Linked DNA regions of Homo sapiens: region 1 is linked to region 2. Evidence: fine-mapped expression QTL. A gene starts in region 2. The other region holds a variant in brackets. All regions are shown on one strand. Distances are between the middles of the regions. Region 1 has its middle 180 kb from the start of DKK2. Region 2 holds the start of LEF1 (lymphoid enhancer binding factor 1).

The links. PIP is the estimated chance that this variant, and not a neighbour inherited with it, causes the effect.
Region 1: its variant is fine-mapped to the expression of LEF1 in esophagus muscle (GTEx, PIP 0.99).

Annotation. Positions count from the first base shown.
Region 1 is chr4:107,214,619-107,223,307 of GRCh38, forward strand. No RefSeq gene overlaps it. Among named protein-coding and RNA genes, the nearest start is that of DKK2, 180 kb to the left of the region's middle. The variant C/CT (reference allele first, on the strand shown) is at 5,031.
Region 2 is chr4:108,165,407-108,174,095 of GRCh38, forward strand. LEF1 (lymphoid enhancer binding factor 1) reads right to left here and starts at 3,526. Exons shown (of 12, transcript NM_016269.5): 1 at 2,149-3,526. The coding sequence starts at 2,361. It overlaps LOC124900752, which reads left to right and starts at 2,533. Exons shown (of 2, transcript XM_047416528.1): 1 at 2,533-3,496; 2 at 3,704-5,564. The coding sequence starts at 3,094. The coding sequence ends at 4,290. It overlaps LEF1-AS1 (LEF1 antisense RNA 1), which reads left to right and starts at 2,119. Exons shown (of 3, transcript NR_029374.1): 1 at 2,119-2,427; 2 at 8,013-8,113. RefSeq lists silencers at 1,480-1,719, 3,476-3,525, 7,312-7,561, 7,802-7,991 and enhancers at 1,597-2,098, 3,126-3,215, 5,286-5,916.

The DNA of each region.
Region 1 (8,689 bases), 950 kb before region 2:
TCTCCCTCTTCACATCCATCACACTTTATTGAAGTTGTTAAAAATCTGGCTACCTGCAAAACCATAAACTCTATGAGGACAGATACAATGATGAAGTTATTTGCTTTGATAATACTAGCCGAACACCTTAATGTTTGCTGACTAAATAGGGGTACAAATATTTACTTTGCTATAAAAGTCCTCTGCACACTAAGCATGTAATGGAATTTCATGGTTGGCTATCTGCTCTCTTTGCCATATTTAAGTTGCCTCCTCCACCATCACCAAACCAATCCCTGGCTCTGAGTCTCTAAGTCTCTAATTCCAGATGATTTGGCCCGTAGATCTGAGGCTGAAACATCTTACCCAGTGATTACTGATCACCTTTGTCTACTAAACTACTCAGCTTAGCACTTAAAATATTTCATTCATTATTCCTTCCTTACCTAAACCACCCACATATTTCTCTTTCCAAAATAATCCTTATGTTTCCATTTTATTCCTGCTTTCTAAATAAAAATTTGATGATGACGATGATGGCCAGGGACATTTCTAAGCACTTTATAGATACTGTCTTGTTTAATCCTCACAACAGTGCTATGGAAAAGGTGGTGTTACTATCTTCAGGTTAAGATGAGGAAACTGAGACAGAGAAGGCTTAATTAATATGTCCGGTCAAGCTGCTAGGAAGAAGTGGGCACCACTTGAATTTGAACCCAAGCATCCTGGCTCCAAAGATCATGCTCTTCAATACTATGGTATGCCTTTCTCCAAGGCACCTGAATGAGTGTTGACTAACTTTGAGGTCATCATGAAAGGGCCCTTTCATCTCTAGTATTTGCTTTTGCTATTTGTCAGCCTTTGATGCTCCCTTGATATCTGTCTAGAAGAAGACTTTCCAACACAGCCTGGCCCAGAATTTGGACTGAATTTTCCAGAGCTTTGACTGTGGTCCATTCTTAATGAGCTCCCAAGCAACTACCTCAAGGGAGAATGAAAATGTAACTTGGACCTTACCTGAATGACATTATTTTACTTATTTCTCACTCCCCAAAAGCAATCTGTCAGGAATTCAGAAAATTGTGCCAATTGCCAAGAGGGATGCTAAGATTGGACGGAAATAGACCTTGAAATTAAGACGCTTACTACGCGGAGAAAAGACTTGAATATAATGAGCAAAACACACTGCAGAAGTTGATGGATAACTTTTAACATAAGAAGGATCAGAACCAAGACTATCTCCTAGAATCCTTGGAGGCTTTCCCACTCACATAAAAAAATAGGGACTGAAATTTGGCAAAGGATTGTAATCTATCTACTGTGTGACCTGCCCAACCCCTAAACTTCTTTCAAGGCTACTTAAAGAGTTTCTCTTCTAAAAAGTTACCAGTTACCAATCCTATGCCCACTATAGTTTGTATCTTATTCTGAATTTCCTGAGTATTCATGGCTTGAGACTGACCCACCCAATTACAAACATAATCAAATATTAGCTTATAATTATATTTTAGATGGTTAAAGCATAAGTTCTATCATCCTAAGAAAAATCTTAAACACTACAGAAACAACTACCATAAAACTATCTCAAAGTTCTTGAAATTCTCACTACAGTGCAGAGCAGGCATCGGTATTCAATAAACAATAAATGACTGAACAACAAATAAGTGAATAAAGGAGCATTTCTGCTTTGATTTTTACATAATGACCTGGAGCTTAAGAGGAAAGTGAGAGAGAGAACTTAGAATAGAAGGCATGTTGGCTTCTGATTTTATTAAAATGTTTCATCAGATAGAAGATGTGGTTCTCCCAAAATAAAGACCAGGAGCACAGGAAAACAGCACTGTGTCTTGGCAAGAGAAAAAAAAAAATAACACCCCTCCCAACCCAACACACAATGCCCCTACATGCTCATGTATTTGGAGGTAATAGTCAATTTACTGGCACACAATGCAAGTCCTTTCTGGAAATGATTACTCTCAAAGATCCACTTTTAGTCCAATGTGTTACAAAATGAGAGGGAGGCCATCCAATTCTTACTTTCCCTTTGTGATGAACTGTTAAAAAGTGATACAAGAGGATAAAAGATGAGATGGGAAGGGAAAGAGACAGAAGAGTAGGCTGTAGGAGACCAAATAAAAAGTTCAAAGTGGCAAGCACTGCAAAGTAACACTTCATCATTCCCAATTTTACTCCTGGTTGTCTATCTGGAGTGTTGTCATTACCTATGAGAGACCAGCTCCAAAAAGTTCAGTGTGTTCCTGTAAAATCTTTGGACCTAGACTCAAGTTCAAGAATGCACAAATGATGCCTCCAAGCATTATGATATGCTTGCAAAGTTCTACTGACCTATCCTGATGAAAATATCAACTGACCTTGAAAGTTTACCAGGTCTCAGTGAGCAGGTCTGGGGAGTTAAGAAGAAAGACACCATAGTGCAAAAGAATGTGGAGTATGCAAAGGGCAGAAGCTGACGGCTTATGAACTGCACATTATTTGAGGTGGCTCTTTCTAAAAAGAATTCTAGGACATCCCTATCCACTGTTGCCATTATCCACTTAATTATGTAGAGTCACCATAAAAATTTAAGTATTTTGTGGAGAATGGGCACCTCTCCATCTGTGAATGCTACCAAAGGTAGAGCCATTAGTTCAGCAAGTAAGCCCAGCCTACTCACTCTGAGACTTCATTATTATTGGTATTGCTGCAGGACCCATCTCCTGGAACTTTCCACTTTCTCCTGGGTTTATTTGCTTCACTTCACCCTTCAAAATTCCCAGGAACATTTGTGTCGTATGAACTCCCAGTCAGTTTATAGATTATCTTTCCCTTGACCTGGTACCTAAACCCCAGGCTTTTATATTTAATCAGCTATTGAATATTAATTTTGTTTTTTGTTAGAGATCTTAAACATAAGATGACCAAAATGTAAATCTTGATTTCAGCTCACTCCTGGAAACCCATTTCTTCTCCATTGTCTACGTCTCAGTAAATGGCAGAAACACTCACCAAATTGATAAAGGCTAAAACCTATGAGCCATTTTTAATTTCTCTTGTTCTTACCTCTCACATTCCATCTGCTAGTTCTGTGACTATACCTGTTAATACTGTATATCCTAACTTTTCCTTCTTTTCTCTATCCACACTACTACAGTCTTAGTCCAGCCACTATCATCTCTCACTTGCATGATGACAAAAACTTATTAACTCATCTTTCAGCTAATATCATGTTGAAAAGCCAATCAGACTTATTAGCTTGGTGGTCAAAATAAAACCAAAGTAAATTATTATATTTACTTGTAAAATAATTGTATATATAATAATACAATCAGCCTCCAGGTATAGGAAACAATGATTATGTAAAGGCAACTGTAATACTCTATATTTTATTAAATTTTACAATGATTTCATTATCCAAGTGAGACTTTAACTTGTTACTGGTTAACATTGAATGTGTATCATGCCAACTCCCAAGTAACCACCATGATCTACCACCTAAGCAACTGCAAATAGCCTCCTAACTGGTCTCCAAATTTCTGTTTTTGCTCCACTGAACTCCATTATCCACAAAGCTATTAGAGTGAAGTTTTTAAGGAGCAGATCAGTATTTATGAGTCTTGCATTTAAAATCCAGTGTGGCAGATATCTCCTTATTCTCTGTTTTCTTTAAAATAATGATCTCCTCCAGCAAGTTTTTTTTTTTTTTTTTTTTTTTTTGAGACGCTCACTCTGACGCCCAGGCTGGAGTGCAGTGGCACAATCCCAGCTCACTGCAAGCTCTGCCTCCTGGGTTCACACCATTCTCCTGCCTCAGCCTCCCAAGTAGCTGGGACTACAGGCGACCACCACCACGCCCGGCTAATTTTTTGTATTTTTAGTAGAGACGGGGCTTCACCACGTTAGCCAGGATGATCTCGATCTCCTGACCTCATGATCCGCCTGCCACGGCCTCCCAAAGTGCTGGGATTAGAGGCATGAGCCACCGCGCTCAGCCTCCTCCAGCAAGTTTTAAGAGTACGTGACTGCCTCTTTTGTTCTAATGAGGTAAAGCCACACAACTAAGTTTGGGCTATGGATATGAGCAGAACTTATATGTGTGCAACTTCCAAGTGATCTCTAAATGCAAAGCCACTAATTCCAAACTCCCTTTTTCCTCCCTTCTATGGGGTGAAATACAGATATGATGGTGATGAACAAGAAGAGATCTTGCTTGTCTTATTCTCATCTGAAAAATAATGACACTTAGTAATCACTCAAGTATTTTTTAAGTGAATGAAAGATGGAGGAACAGTGTAAGATAACCTACACATCCTCTTGGTACAAAGAGCTATTAGATGTCTGATAGTAAACAATATAGTATGTCTACTAGGAAGCATTCTGCAAAAATTATGAAAAAGAGAAAAGGCAATCTATTCCAACTTAATAACAAAAGGTCATAACTGATCTTCTAGTAATTATTAAACACATAAAAATCAATAGCCAGAAACTTTAAGTCAATGATCCATGCCTAGATGTGACACAAAAGTATGATCTTGTGTCCAAGGTCAAGAATAAAGGACAATTGAATCAAGGATGCTTAGTCAAATGAGAATCCATATTTATAACTCAACAAAATCAAAGAGAGAGGAAAGATCAAAATAATTTAACATATTTGTAGGGCATTAATGAGCTCAAGTACATTGCCTAGAGTAACAAAGAAGAAAGACTATTTTATTTTGTCTTAATCTTTTAAGAAAAGAGGGAATGTATTGTCTTACCTAGTTGCACTGTTAGAAGATTGTCAGAATTCAGGCAAAAGTGGGCCCAAAAGTTAAAATGATGTCATCAGGTTTTCTGTTTTATTATTTTTTTTTATTTTGCACTAAATTTAGAATTATAGAAAATGTATCAAGACTTGTAAAAGAGTCCTGTATACCACTCATGAAGCTTCCCCTTTTGTTAACATTTTACATAAACATAGGACAATTATCAAAACTGGGAAATTAACACTGATATAATTCTATTAACTGAACTAGAGACCTTATTCTACTTTCACCAGTTTGTTCACTAATGTT[C/CT]TTTTTTTTCATTTCAGGATTCCACCAGGATCCTACCTTGTATTTTGTTGTAATACCCCTCAGTCTCCTCTGATCCATAACAGCTCCTCAATTTTTCTATCTTTCTTGATATAGATACTTTGCAGATTACTGATTAGTTATTTTGTAGAATGTCTCTCGGTTTGGGTTTCTCTGGTTTTTGTGTCAACATTAGAAGGAAGTTCTGCATTGCTGGCAATAATACCACAGAAATGATGTCATTTCTTTCTCAAGGAATCTTATCAAGGGGTTAATGGTACATATATGTCTCATTACACTTGACTAATGTGGTATATGCTGGCTTTCTCCACTGTAAATTTATTATTTTTCCCTATATAGATAAAACTTTGAAGGAGATCATTTAAGACTATGCAAATTCCTTTTTCTCCCCCAAACTTCTGCCCACTAATTTTAGTGAGATAGAGAATTTTAAGTAGAAAAAAGTCCTGTTTTAGTAGTGCTACAAGAAAAATTCTAATCTGAAGTTGCTTGAAAAAATGTTTTAAGAAATTCATAGGTATTCTAAAATATCATTTAAAAATTATAGCAGTGTTTAACTATTGCATTTGCTTTAAAGGCTTTCTACTAAGGGTCCTTATACTTTTCAAGGTCATGGAGCCTCTTGAGAATCTGGTGAAAGACAAAAGTTCATTCTTCCTAGAAAAATGCAAATTGCATATGTTGAGAATTTAGGGACTTCATCAACCACCAAAGCTCATCCTTGGATTCCTGAAGTGTCTCCAGGCAAAGCACCCCTTTATTAATAACAAAGAATATCTGTAAGTCAATTTGCTTTTCATAGGTCTATCTATATGCCCATCATTGATGATGTTCTTTCCTTAGTTTGTTATGGAAGGAAGGAAGGAAGGAAGGAAAGAAGGAAGGAAGGAAGGAAAGAAGGGAGAGTGGGGAAGGAGGGAGGGAGGGAAGGTAGAAGTAAGGAAAGAGAAGGAAAAAGTCATATTATCCCATGTCCCCATTACTTCTCTTACCCAGAATAGAAAAATGTATTGGACCAAAGTTGGCCAATTCCACTTAATTTTTTTTCCTAGACTGCTTTTCAAATTGGATCTTGAGTGTACTAAAAACTATTCATTTTGCCCCATTCAGCTTTCTTTCCATCCAGCTAATTCCCCCAGTGAGCACGTTGTTCCCCAAAAGCCTTCAGGTTTCTTTTAAATCTATGTTCACAGAACTTGTGCATAAGAACAAGAATTGTATTCTTCTAATTAAAAAGTAGAAAATAACTAGGATGTTTCGACAACTGCTTTTAAAAATAAATTCTTACCAGGATCCTCAGGTCTCTGTGACCACTTCCCACATATTTTATTAAAAGCCTAAAAACAGAAAGAATTGCTAGCATTTGAGGGGTTTTTTTGTTTCTCTGAAACAGTTTATCTTCTGAAGCAACTGACCCCATCTCATGAAATGTTTGCAGCAAATATGTACTATGTTTAGTTAGTGTTGTGAAATTTCTGTTTTTGCAATATGTTGGGATGCTGAGTGTTAGTCAAATGGATTTTATTTGGAAATTAAAAGCAAATTTCATAGGCTACTTGCTTTGCAGCTGAAGAATCTGGGTCAGTCAGTCAGAAAAACATGAGCTTTTTTTCCCATGGCTTTGAGGTAAGCACTGTGGGTTTCCTAGAAGGATTCTGCCCCTACCACCTAAGAGAGTTCTGGGTGTTTGTTACAACCATGTCTTTATCCTAAGGGGTCTTGGGCTTAACCATTGTTCTAGAAAATCTTGAGGCAAATCTACTACTTTAATCTTTTAAATAGTATAATTTGGAAAGACTCTTTCAAGCAAATCTAATTCAAATGAGTCCATCTGCTAAGCCCAAAATATGAGTTTTTCATAAAATGCAGATGCAATAACAGACTCAAAGCATAAGAGACTTTTATACAACCCATTAAGCAATAGTCAACCCCTTCCTTTTGTAAAAAGAGAAATGAAATGTATCATCTTCTAACCAATACAATAAGTCCTACTAGTTTAAGCTTTGATGTTACCATATGAAGCATTCTTTCTCTATTATGTTCAAAATCGTGGAGAACATTCTGATAATAAGACCTATCTTTATGACCTAATTGATTTCCTGTGTTAATGCTAAGGAAATAATGAAGGAAACTTTTGAAGTTTAAGCTCCCCATTAATCCATGGGACATTTTAATTCATTGAATTTCTTTATAAGAAACACAAAAACAAATCTTCTCCAAGAAATGTAGCAAAGCAATGTCCTTAAAAGGAAAGTCTAACATCTGATTTAGTGATAGGAGTTTGGACATGCACAGCTAGATGATGTAGTACCTATTTCTCTACTCAGTAATTACGCTAACTATTCTATTAATTTAAATTACTTGATAGTTATGGGCACATGAACTACACATACCTTCAGCCACTTGCTTTCTGAGTTGGTTTTTCAGTGTCCTGAGGAAATTATTACTCTTGAGAAAAAAGAAGAAAATAAAATCTAGGCTCCAATATCACCCCCATTTCAAAGTCACATAGATTTGTTTTGACTCACACTTAGCATCTTACTTTTCAAATTAAACAACTATTTATTTTCATCATGAGAGATGAAAATTTTTAAAATTAGAAAACTTTCAGATAATAGATGAAAGCACATGTGATTCCCAGCACTAGCACTAAGGGCAGAGCACCTGCTGTAATTCTGTACTGAAGACTACAATTCTGAGATGGTTTAGCAGCATCATTTTTTTTTTTGTTTTTTGGGGTTTTTACTTTTGTCTTTAAAATGATATCAGACAACATATCACATGCCTGAGTTTAGAGCTGGGTTTTAGGAGATTCTGCTCTCAAAGCAGAACAAAAGAAAAAACTATTAAATTGCAATGAACTTTTGGCTCTGTGGTCTAGTTTAATCGGGATTGGAAAGAGAATTTAAAATGGTGTGTTTCTATTCGTCAGCAGCAAGCCATTAAAACTATATTTAAAGAGAAAACACAATGAATCTTCTATATTAATCTTATATGCAGTTACCTTGCTAAATTCCCATGTTGTGTCTAATAATGTGAAGGTTTACTCTTTGGGTTTTCTATAGAAATCACATAATCTACAAATAATCTGTAGATAATCACAATTTTGTTTCTTCCTTTCCAATCCTTATATCTCTGATTGCCTCATTATACCGTATAGGACTTCATGTACAATTATGAACAAAAGTGGTAATAAGTTTTTTCCTTGTGCCATTCCTGATTTCAAAGAGAATGCTTCCAATGTTTGCTCATTTAAGATAATGTTAACTTTTGGATTATTTTATAGATGCTTTTAGTCAGGTTAAGAACTATCCTTTCTCATTTCTAATTGAAGAAGAGTTTTTAAAATCATAAGTGGGTTTTAAGTTTGATGAAAGACTTATCTATTGAAATGATCTTTTGGTTATCTGTATTATTCTGTAAATATGGTAAGGTACATTTATGGATTTTCTAATAATAAACCATCCTTGTATACCTGGAATACATTCCATTTGGTTGTGATATATTGTCTTTCATATACTCTTTTGGGTTTGATTCATTAATATTTTGTTAGCTGTTTTACATCTAAATTAATGAGTTAAAATAACCTGTAATCTTCATGTCTCATAATTTATTTGTTCTGATGTCAAAGTATACTTGCC
Region 2 (8,689 bases):
AAATATAGTTAAATTTGGGAATGATCCACATGCTGTTCTGACTGCTGTTTATTAAACCATATCAAGGCTCCTTGGATGCCTAATATTACAGGAGTAGGAGTTAATGGGGTTGATGGTTTCGATAGCCTCTTCAACCACTGTTCACTTCAATCAGATCTGATTAAAAGAAGGCTGAAATATCATTTTGCAACTGAAAATGGCATTTAAACATAAACAAGCCAACCACTCAGATGCGGTCTTAAGGCAACTGCCCTGAGCGCAGTTACAGCAGAAGCTCCACTCGAGCTTATAACCTACTATGGCTGGCTGAGTGCAGGCTTACAAAAGTAGAACGATTCTGTGGTTAAAGGGAGGAAAATTAGAGAGTCAGGTTATAGACATCTAAAAGGTAGCCCAGTTGATATCAGTTTTGGTAATCACCATCCACCCAGACAGCCTCAAACACGTGCAAATCAGTGGTATTACTCCTTCACCCTCAGGCCTCCTCATGCCCACTTAACACCCGAGTGCTCTCGGATTCGAACGCAGTGTCCTTCACCCGGACCAGAAAATTGTGGAGAATATGAAGTGGGTGGCAAAATTATTTATGGACTAAGGCAGGACTAGCAAAATGGGTAGAAAGAGAGGCTGCTCTACAAATAGGAGAGTTTGGCAAAAAGCCTGTGTTTTGGATGTTATTCGGTTCTCTGGACGTGTGTCCTCCCTTTGACCTCCTTTTCCCAGCACACAGTAGTCACAAATCTTTTACGCGGGGTTAGGTGCACCCTACCCCCGCCCCCAGCCCGCTCAAACTGGATTCAACGGGTAAAGAACACCATTCTGTTCTCTGAACGCAGGCCCCCAGCCTTTCAAAATTCGTACTCACCTCTGCCATTGGGATAGAGAAGGCAGATCTGAGGTGTTCTTAAACGCGCTGTTTAAAACCCAAAATGTCCCCGCCCTCAAAACCACACACTTTCTTTTTGGGGGTAGAAAGATGCCATTTAAGGAAAAAAAGGTATATCCTCCAAGTTTCTTTGGAGGGAAAAGGCGTTGGTTAAATCATTCGGGTGTCAGGACTTTTCTACCGGATTTCCTCCAGAGGGTTTCCCAGTTGTGGAACAAGGGTGACCAGTGGAGTGTCGGGTATCAGGGTCCATCCGCCCCCTAGACCAGCTCTGGACTAGGCTTCAAACAGCCCTCCAGCGCGGCCCTGCTCCGCGCTTTCTCTAGCCAGCACCCACGTGTCTCTATTTACTCTACTCAGGTTACCAGCTCTATCGCCCGCAGCGGGCCAGAAGACCCGATAAAGCGCCTTCCACCCTGCAGGACTAGTGCCCGGCTTCCGCTGCTTCTCCGCCTTTCTTCTGCGTAGATTTAAGGCCTGATCCGGTCCCAAACCCCAAATAAAAGTTGTGGGTTTGTTTCCAAGTGATGGCGGTTGGAGAAAACTAGAGTTGGGGGCGGTACAGCCAGGGTGTACCCTTGCGGTGGGTCGGCTCGGCGCACCCACAGCTCCCAGCTGCTAGCCCAGGCGCTGGGGCCGCAGGGACTGAACCCCGCACCGCCCCCGCAGCCCGGGTGCGCGCCCCATCGGCCGGCCTGCTCCCCGCGGCCCGGCTCACCGGTGGTAGGGACGGCCCCGCCTGCCCCAGCCCACGCCCGCCTCCCCTTCCTCCCGCCTGTGGCTCTGCTCGTCTCCACCTAAGCCTTTGGTGGTTTAACGCACTTTTGCAGAGACATCTACCAAGAGATAGCGTGTGCACTTTGTTTTCCGTCCCACGGAAGAATTTATCAGTAGCGTTATTCAGCCCTACTCGCTTTAAAGCACGGCACCCCTCAGCCCAACAAAAAGACCGAAGGCGAAACATTGTGGGTTCCTGCCCGCGAACCAACCGTTCAGCCACCGAACCCCCTAAACTGATCCATTTGGAATAAGTTACCCTGCCCCTCTACCTCCCATCCTACACACACACACACACACACACACACACACACACACACACACACTGCGGACCGGGGGCCCAGCTACGCACACACCCCAAAACAAACGAGGGATCTACTCGGGACCCTCAGCCGGGCGGCCGGGCGCCTTCGTTCCCTTCCTCCCTCTCTGAGTTTCCCAGGGACCCGCCACGCCTCTCGGAACTGGGGCAGCGGCCCGCTCACCTCGTGTCCGTTGCTGGCCGGGATGATTTCAGACTCGTTCACCAAGGAAGACTTGATGTCAGCTAAATCGCCTTCCTCTTCGGGATGACTGATCTCGGCGAAGATCTTTTCCTTCTGAGGATCGCCCTCGTCCTTGAAGGGGATCATCTCGTCCGTGGCGCAGAGTTCCGGGTCCCCCCCGCCGCCGCCACCTCCTCCGGAGAGTTGGGGCATCCCGGCGGCTCTGTAATCTCCGCTCCGCTGTGGGAGCACCCGCGCAACAGCAGGAAAGACAGAGGGGTAACTCAAGGGTGGGGGAGGAAAGGAGAGTTGGAAGGGTTCGTGCAGCAGGACAGCGGGCGGAAGCGGGGCGGGCGAGCGCGGGGCCGCCGGCCGGCAGCCGGAGCAGCTGCCGCGGCGCCCGAATCCCGGCGGCCGCCGCGCTTTCCCGCTTCGCGGAGACCGACGCAGGCGCCCGCCCCCGAGGCCGAAGGGCACTGGGCGGCGAGGGCTGCGGTAGCTGGCGACTCCGGGGGCGTCTGCGCGGCGCGCGCTAGACGAGGCTGCCCCGGCGGCCACCCCGCGACCCCGCGTCGCCGGGATTTGCGCGCGGAGAACGCCGGTTCTGGAGGGAGCACGCCTCCCCAAAGTGCAGAGGAGGGTCCGGCGGCGCGTCTCCGCGGAAACCCTCTCCACTGTAGTTACCCCGGATGCCGACTTAGTAGTTTGTTTTCCGAGAAAAGAGAGGGGATCTGGGCAGAAGGGCCCCGTTTGCCCCAAAAGAAGGTGCAAGGATCAGAAGATAACGAAACGTCCACTTCCTGAAGGGTGGGAAAAAAAGAAAAAGAAAAAGGAGCCACCCACGCTGGAGATGTCCGTTTTAGATCTTCTTATTTTCTTCCCTTTCGCTTCGGTTTTTCTTCTCGAGGCTCATTTAATCTGCTAGAGAAGGAGGAGGAGCAGAAGATGGGGGCCGAGGAGGAGGGGAAGAGAAAGAGAAGTTTGCCAAGAATAAAGTTTTTGCCGGCAAGCGCGGGGACTCCGCAGTGGAGGGCACTGCGGAGTCTCGGGGAGTCACAGCGGGGGCCTCGGGCCCAAATGCCTCTGCCCGGAGCTCGAGCCGACACACACACTCAGTCCGACCCCTCTTTGTTCCCGGCTCGAGTTTCTCAGCCTGGCTCGCCGGCTCGCCGCTCTGCACGCCTCCGCCGGCCAGCTCTGTCAAAGCAAAGAGCTGCGCCCCTTGAGTTCGCCCGGCCGAGGGGAGGGGACGCCCCGAGCTTGGCCGCGTGCGAGGCTCCGGGCGCGTCCTGGTTCCTCGGCCCGAGAGCGCGCAGCCCGGGTCCCTCCTCCGCGCCCTGCCCCGCAGGTGAGCGGCTGCGCCTCCCCACTGCTTCTCCTCCTCCCGCGCCTCGCCGGCGCTGAAAAGCTACCCACTTGCGTCGCTTCTCCTCCCTCTCCCCTCCCCCGCCTCTAGCTCTCCTTGGCTGCCCGCTGGAGGGGAGGCGGGGGGTGAGGGGGAGTCGGCGAGAAGGAGGTGGTGATTGAGGGCTTTTTTTTCTTTTTCTTTTCCCAGATCCTGTAGGACGAGTCTTGGTTTTGGGGTGTGTGAGTGTGGTGTGTGCGCGCGCGCCTGGAGGGAAGGATCAGGCAACTTGGCGAGAGAAGGAAGGACCGGGCGCTGCTTATAACCCACCGAAAGGCACGCTTTGCCCGCGTGAAACTGACAAGAAACATTGCCGCAGTGGCTTGACTTCATCATCTAAGTATCTATTTACTTGGCCCCCACCCACCCACTCCTTTTCCTCTGCCAGTCTCTCCCCTACCTCCTTGACGCCTCCCACTCTCCCTCCCTGGCTCTGGCAGAGGGAGGAAGATGAAAGAGAAAGCCGCTGCCGCTGTGATGGACACCACATTGATAGATGCTCTGACAGTGGGGAGAGGCGGGAATCTGGGACTGAGAAAAAAAGGAAAAGGGGAAAATATAACAGACATTGCTCAACTATTAAGAGAGAACAGAAGGACAAGGAAAAGAGAGTTGTAGCTTTCCCGAATATAATATCACACACACGCTCTTTGGAGACAAGGGAACACACTAGTGAAAATAAAATCTCTAGGCTTACGGAGAAAAAATATGACGAGGAAGAAGGAACTGAAGACTAGATTTTAATTATTGCTTTTTAAACAATATATCTTTCATTCTGTTCTCACCACGGGATGTACGGAGAGTTGTGCTAGGTCTCCAGTGGGTTTTCAGAGACACACACCGCAGTGTGTGGGAACCTCATCGAGAATGAAAAGATAATCCAAGAAGGGGGAAGAGAAGGCAAAAGGACTCAGGAGAGCAAAGCCAGAAGAGGGAGGGAGGACGGGGTAGTCCCTGGCACCTTGGACTGCGAACTGAAAGGGACCCTTGAAGACACCAATCCGAATACAACCTCAAAAATTCCCCAGTCTCCACTGTCTCTTTGATGAATTTTGTACAAAGACAGGAGTTTTCAGGAGATACTTTGTGAAAGTTACAGCAGAAGGGAAGCTGAAGTTTGAAAACACATTACATTTTGTCCCTTGGTTCTCAAACCCCCTCAGTTAAAAATCTAGGCAAAATTATTATATCCAATACAGTAACCATCTGTAAAACTTCAGAACAGTAAACAAAGGACATAAAGAAATGTATCTTCATCTCCCTTAAATCGAAAACAAGCAAAACACTACAGAATCAGATTTTGCTCCATTATATAGGAATTGTCTGGCAAAGATCCCTCTTTTTTTCCTAAAGGTGAAATTTCAGGCTGCTGAACATTGAATGGGTAAAGATTTTTACAATGCTGTATCTAAGTGAGCACTAATGACTTCACCTACTAATAACGACTACTTCTTGGGAATAAGAATTTACTAGGAAGCAATTTTTAAAACTTTACAAAGGATCCAATTGGTCCCTACAACATGGCCAGTAGTCACATGTAAATTCTATCTGGAAGATTGGGGTGAAATTAAGGGGTTGGTGAAGGAATCCAGGAAAATTAAAACATTAAATCCATTTTTAATAGCTGACAATGCTATGCCTCAAGAGAAGAAAAAGAGTATATTCTGCTACAGTGTGTGAGAAACCCAATTTTTGTTTTTGGATGATGGTGGTATGTCACTTCCCTTAAAGTTAGGCACCAGTGTGAGTAGTGTCCCAGAGAGGTGAACGTGTAGCTGTGTCAGACATTTATAGCCCCATTCTTAAAAGACACATGGGAAAACAGTCAAAAGTCCTCCCATAACTGCACCAATTTGACCAATAGGAAAACAAGTGGAAAATGCAGTTTCACCAAAGCAGAGTAGAGGTTCCTTTTCATCAAACCCTCAGGAGGGGGAGGGGAGAACACAGAATGGCCAGGGGGTACTTTCTGGAAGCCGAAGAGAGATTAAATGATGACTCTTACATCCCCCCCGCTGTTTAAGTGCTGAAACTAATTCAGATCCCACTTTCTCCTTCATGTTAACTCTGGATTCCCCGAGTAATTTGGAGCCTATGCTCCAGGTTTCCTGAAGATTAGAAGCTCAAGAAGATGGGAATTTTTAGAACAATAACTAGGGGAAACTGTTTACTTGAAGGGCCAAGGGTAGGGGGCTGCGTTTGGTATTTTACTGAGACCCCGTCCATTGAAAACATTGTTTCTAACGAAATCACCCAGCACCTTGCTCTATTTGCGTGGCTGTTTTCCTTACAGTGGTGTAACTTGTGTTAGCTGATTGTCTTTAGGATTGTTGTAAATCTTCTGATGAGCAGCACTTAGAAGGGGCTTTAGTAAAAACCATGCGCCCCAAATTTCTAAAGCTTCGTTTGGGAGAGAGGTTGACATTTGCACATGAAGTCTGTCTTTTGGAAACAGCAGGAGGACGCAGGAGGGGCGAAGTAACCCCGGGAAGACGTTCTTCCCCCTCCCTTACGGATTCAGTGTAGTTCCTGGCATAAGCAATTCTGTCACCGGGCGGTCTTTTCTAATTCGTGTGGGGGCTGATATTAACATAAGCAGCCGCCTCTTCGGGTGCGAGTGGGATCCCAGGTCCGGGATGTGGTGGGTGCGGTGCGGGAGAGGCACCCGCCGCCCCCTTCACTCGGATGTTAGAGGCAAGTTGTTCGTGTGAACTCGAGCGAACGACTGGAGGTTGGCTGTTGTAGGTTCACTCCTTCAGGATGTGGGTTTCAGGGGGCGTTTTGATGTGATTTAATTCCGACCGTGAAAACAATTGCTAGGGGCTGGCTGGATTGCTGTTGGTTTTTCCCCTCCTGGTGGCTTTGCTTGGTTTGGGTTTAGTTTGGGAACAAACTTGTTTTATATCAACACTTCCTTCTACATCGGGCGCCGTCGCCTCAACTGCGCGTGGGGGGCGAGGCGCCCACCCCGCACAAGAACAGAGGAGCGGGGGAGAAGAGACGGCCTCGCTGCTCACTGGGTAAGCGGAGCCCAGCCCCGCTCGGGAGCGGGCAGGAGAGACAGGGTAGTGACCCCCACTCACACCAGAAAACCCCTCCCCCCGGCGATTTTGCTGCCAACTCGAGTCGGCTACAGACAGTCCAGTGAGTCCTTAATTACAAGGACGAGAGAAAAGCACGGTGCCCCTCGAGTCCTCTCCGCCCCCTCGGTCCTAACCCCCGCCCAGGCTCCAGGTCTTCCCCTTTGTGTGGCCTGGACTCTCTCCCAGCTACGACTTTGGTGGGATCCAAAAGGAAGGAGGTGGCGGGGCCTACGGAAGAGGATACCCAGGAGCCAGGGAGAAGGGCTAGAAAACGAATAATGTGACTCCAGAGGCGGAACCCCGACCCCCTCTATTTCCCACCCCGGCTTCACCCGGAGACGAAAGCTGTGGGCATCTTCAGTTTAACGGACTTCGCGGAAAAGGAGAGAAGGGGGGCGAGGGAAATGGCAGTTTGTGTCCCAGGGGTTCTTCCCCTTCTTCTTGCCGCCTCCTAAAGACAAACAAACTCAACCCCCCACCCTCCGGGGTATCAGGGAACTCGTGGGACCGTGAAAAAGTCGTTCCCAAATCCGGCCGCCTGCGGACGTCGGACTTCCGCGGGGCCGGCGCCCGTTGGCGTCTGTAGCTCGGCGCAGCCACGCGGGGCTCCAGCGAGCGGGGTCCGCCACCCCTCGCGCCCTCCTGCGGCTTTCCCAGCGCTGGGCCAGTGCAGGCCGAGCCCTGCGTCCCTGCCTCGCTGGGTGGGGGTCCGGGGCGCGGCTGTCCACAGGGCCGCCTCCTCCTGCGGCCCGCGGGGAAGGGGCGCATCCCACCCCGCTCTGCAGGCCGCCCTTCTGCCAGCTGGGAGGCGAGGGCACACGTCCTAAGGCTGCCCAAGGGGGAGAGGAATCGCGCCGGTAGGAGAGCGCACGGGAACCAGGAACGCAAGGCGGGCACAGGGGAGCCGAAGGAGCCAGACAGGGCCCGGCCACGCGCCCTCCTCGCTCGGCTGCGCTCCGTGACGGGAACCCAGGCTCCCACGCACGGGGAATGCCTAGAACGGAGCTAGAATGGAGGTGGGAGCTGGAGTCATTTTGCGGGCCACAGGACTGCTCATTTCGTGGGCAGGACGTGACATTCTTGTCCCTCCTTTCTGAAAAACTTTTCTCAGGCGCCTGAACTTGGCATGGGGACCGGCCTCGAAAAGCCGGCGGGTAGCACGGCCGCGGTATCCAACCCTTCGCCCTCCTTCCCACCGGCCCTCCGCGTCCCTCGGCCCGCCCCCCGGGTCGGGGACGCGCGCGGAAAGGCCGCTCGCGCGCTCGAGCCGTGCCTTATATCGGCTGAGGGAGGCGCCTGCGCACGGCCCCGCGCGGCGGCGCGGCCTTTGAAGTCGCGGCGGCTGCCGCTTTCATCCTTTCTTTTTTCCCTCGCAGGCCCCTTTGTGTGACTAAATTTGGCAAGAATATGGATCTGAGCCAGTCTTTCCACGTGTGCTCCCAGCTCCCAGCTGAGAAGGCCAAGGGTTCTCTTCCGGGTAAGGAGACAGGGAGAAAGATCAAAGAGTTTGGGGAGCTGGATCTGAAATGTGAATTGAAAATAAAAATCAAGCCTGGACACATTCCAGTTTCTAAAGCAAAACCAACCCTCAGCAGAGGCCGGCTCTCTATATAGCTCTCTTTCTTTCTCTCTCTGCTCCCTTTGACTCTTTTCTGTGACCATTCTTGAGCACATGGTATAAAATAAAGAGAACATAGGGAAACAGTTTCTCTATATTTCGTTTTGGAGTAATTTTATTAGGGAAAATATCTTGTTCATAATTACCGGTATGTGAAGCCGAATTTCCTTAGCCGTAAATACTGTCTTATTTCAGCATGCTTCGCACTTTCTTCTGCGGCCACATTTGGGAAGAGAACGTTGACACAACACGTGTGGATATGTTCGTTGTGTATAGTGGTCCTTTTTTTCTACACATGATATGGTGCACCGTATAGTTTTCTTTCACAGAAGTTAGATTCTGGAAAACCAATGTTAGTATTTTTATCAAAGTACTTACTGTCACAGTTGATCTCTGTGATTTGAAACCCTCTCGTCGATAGACTGCAGAGATCTT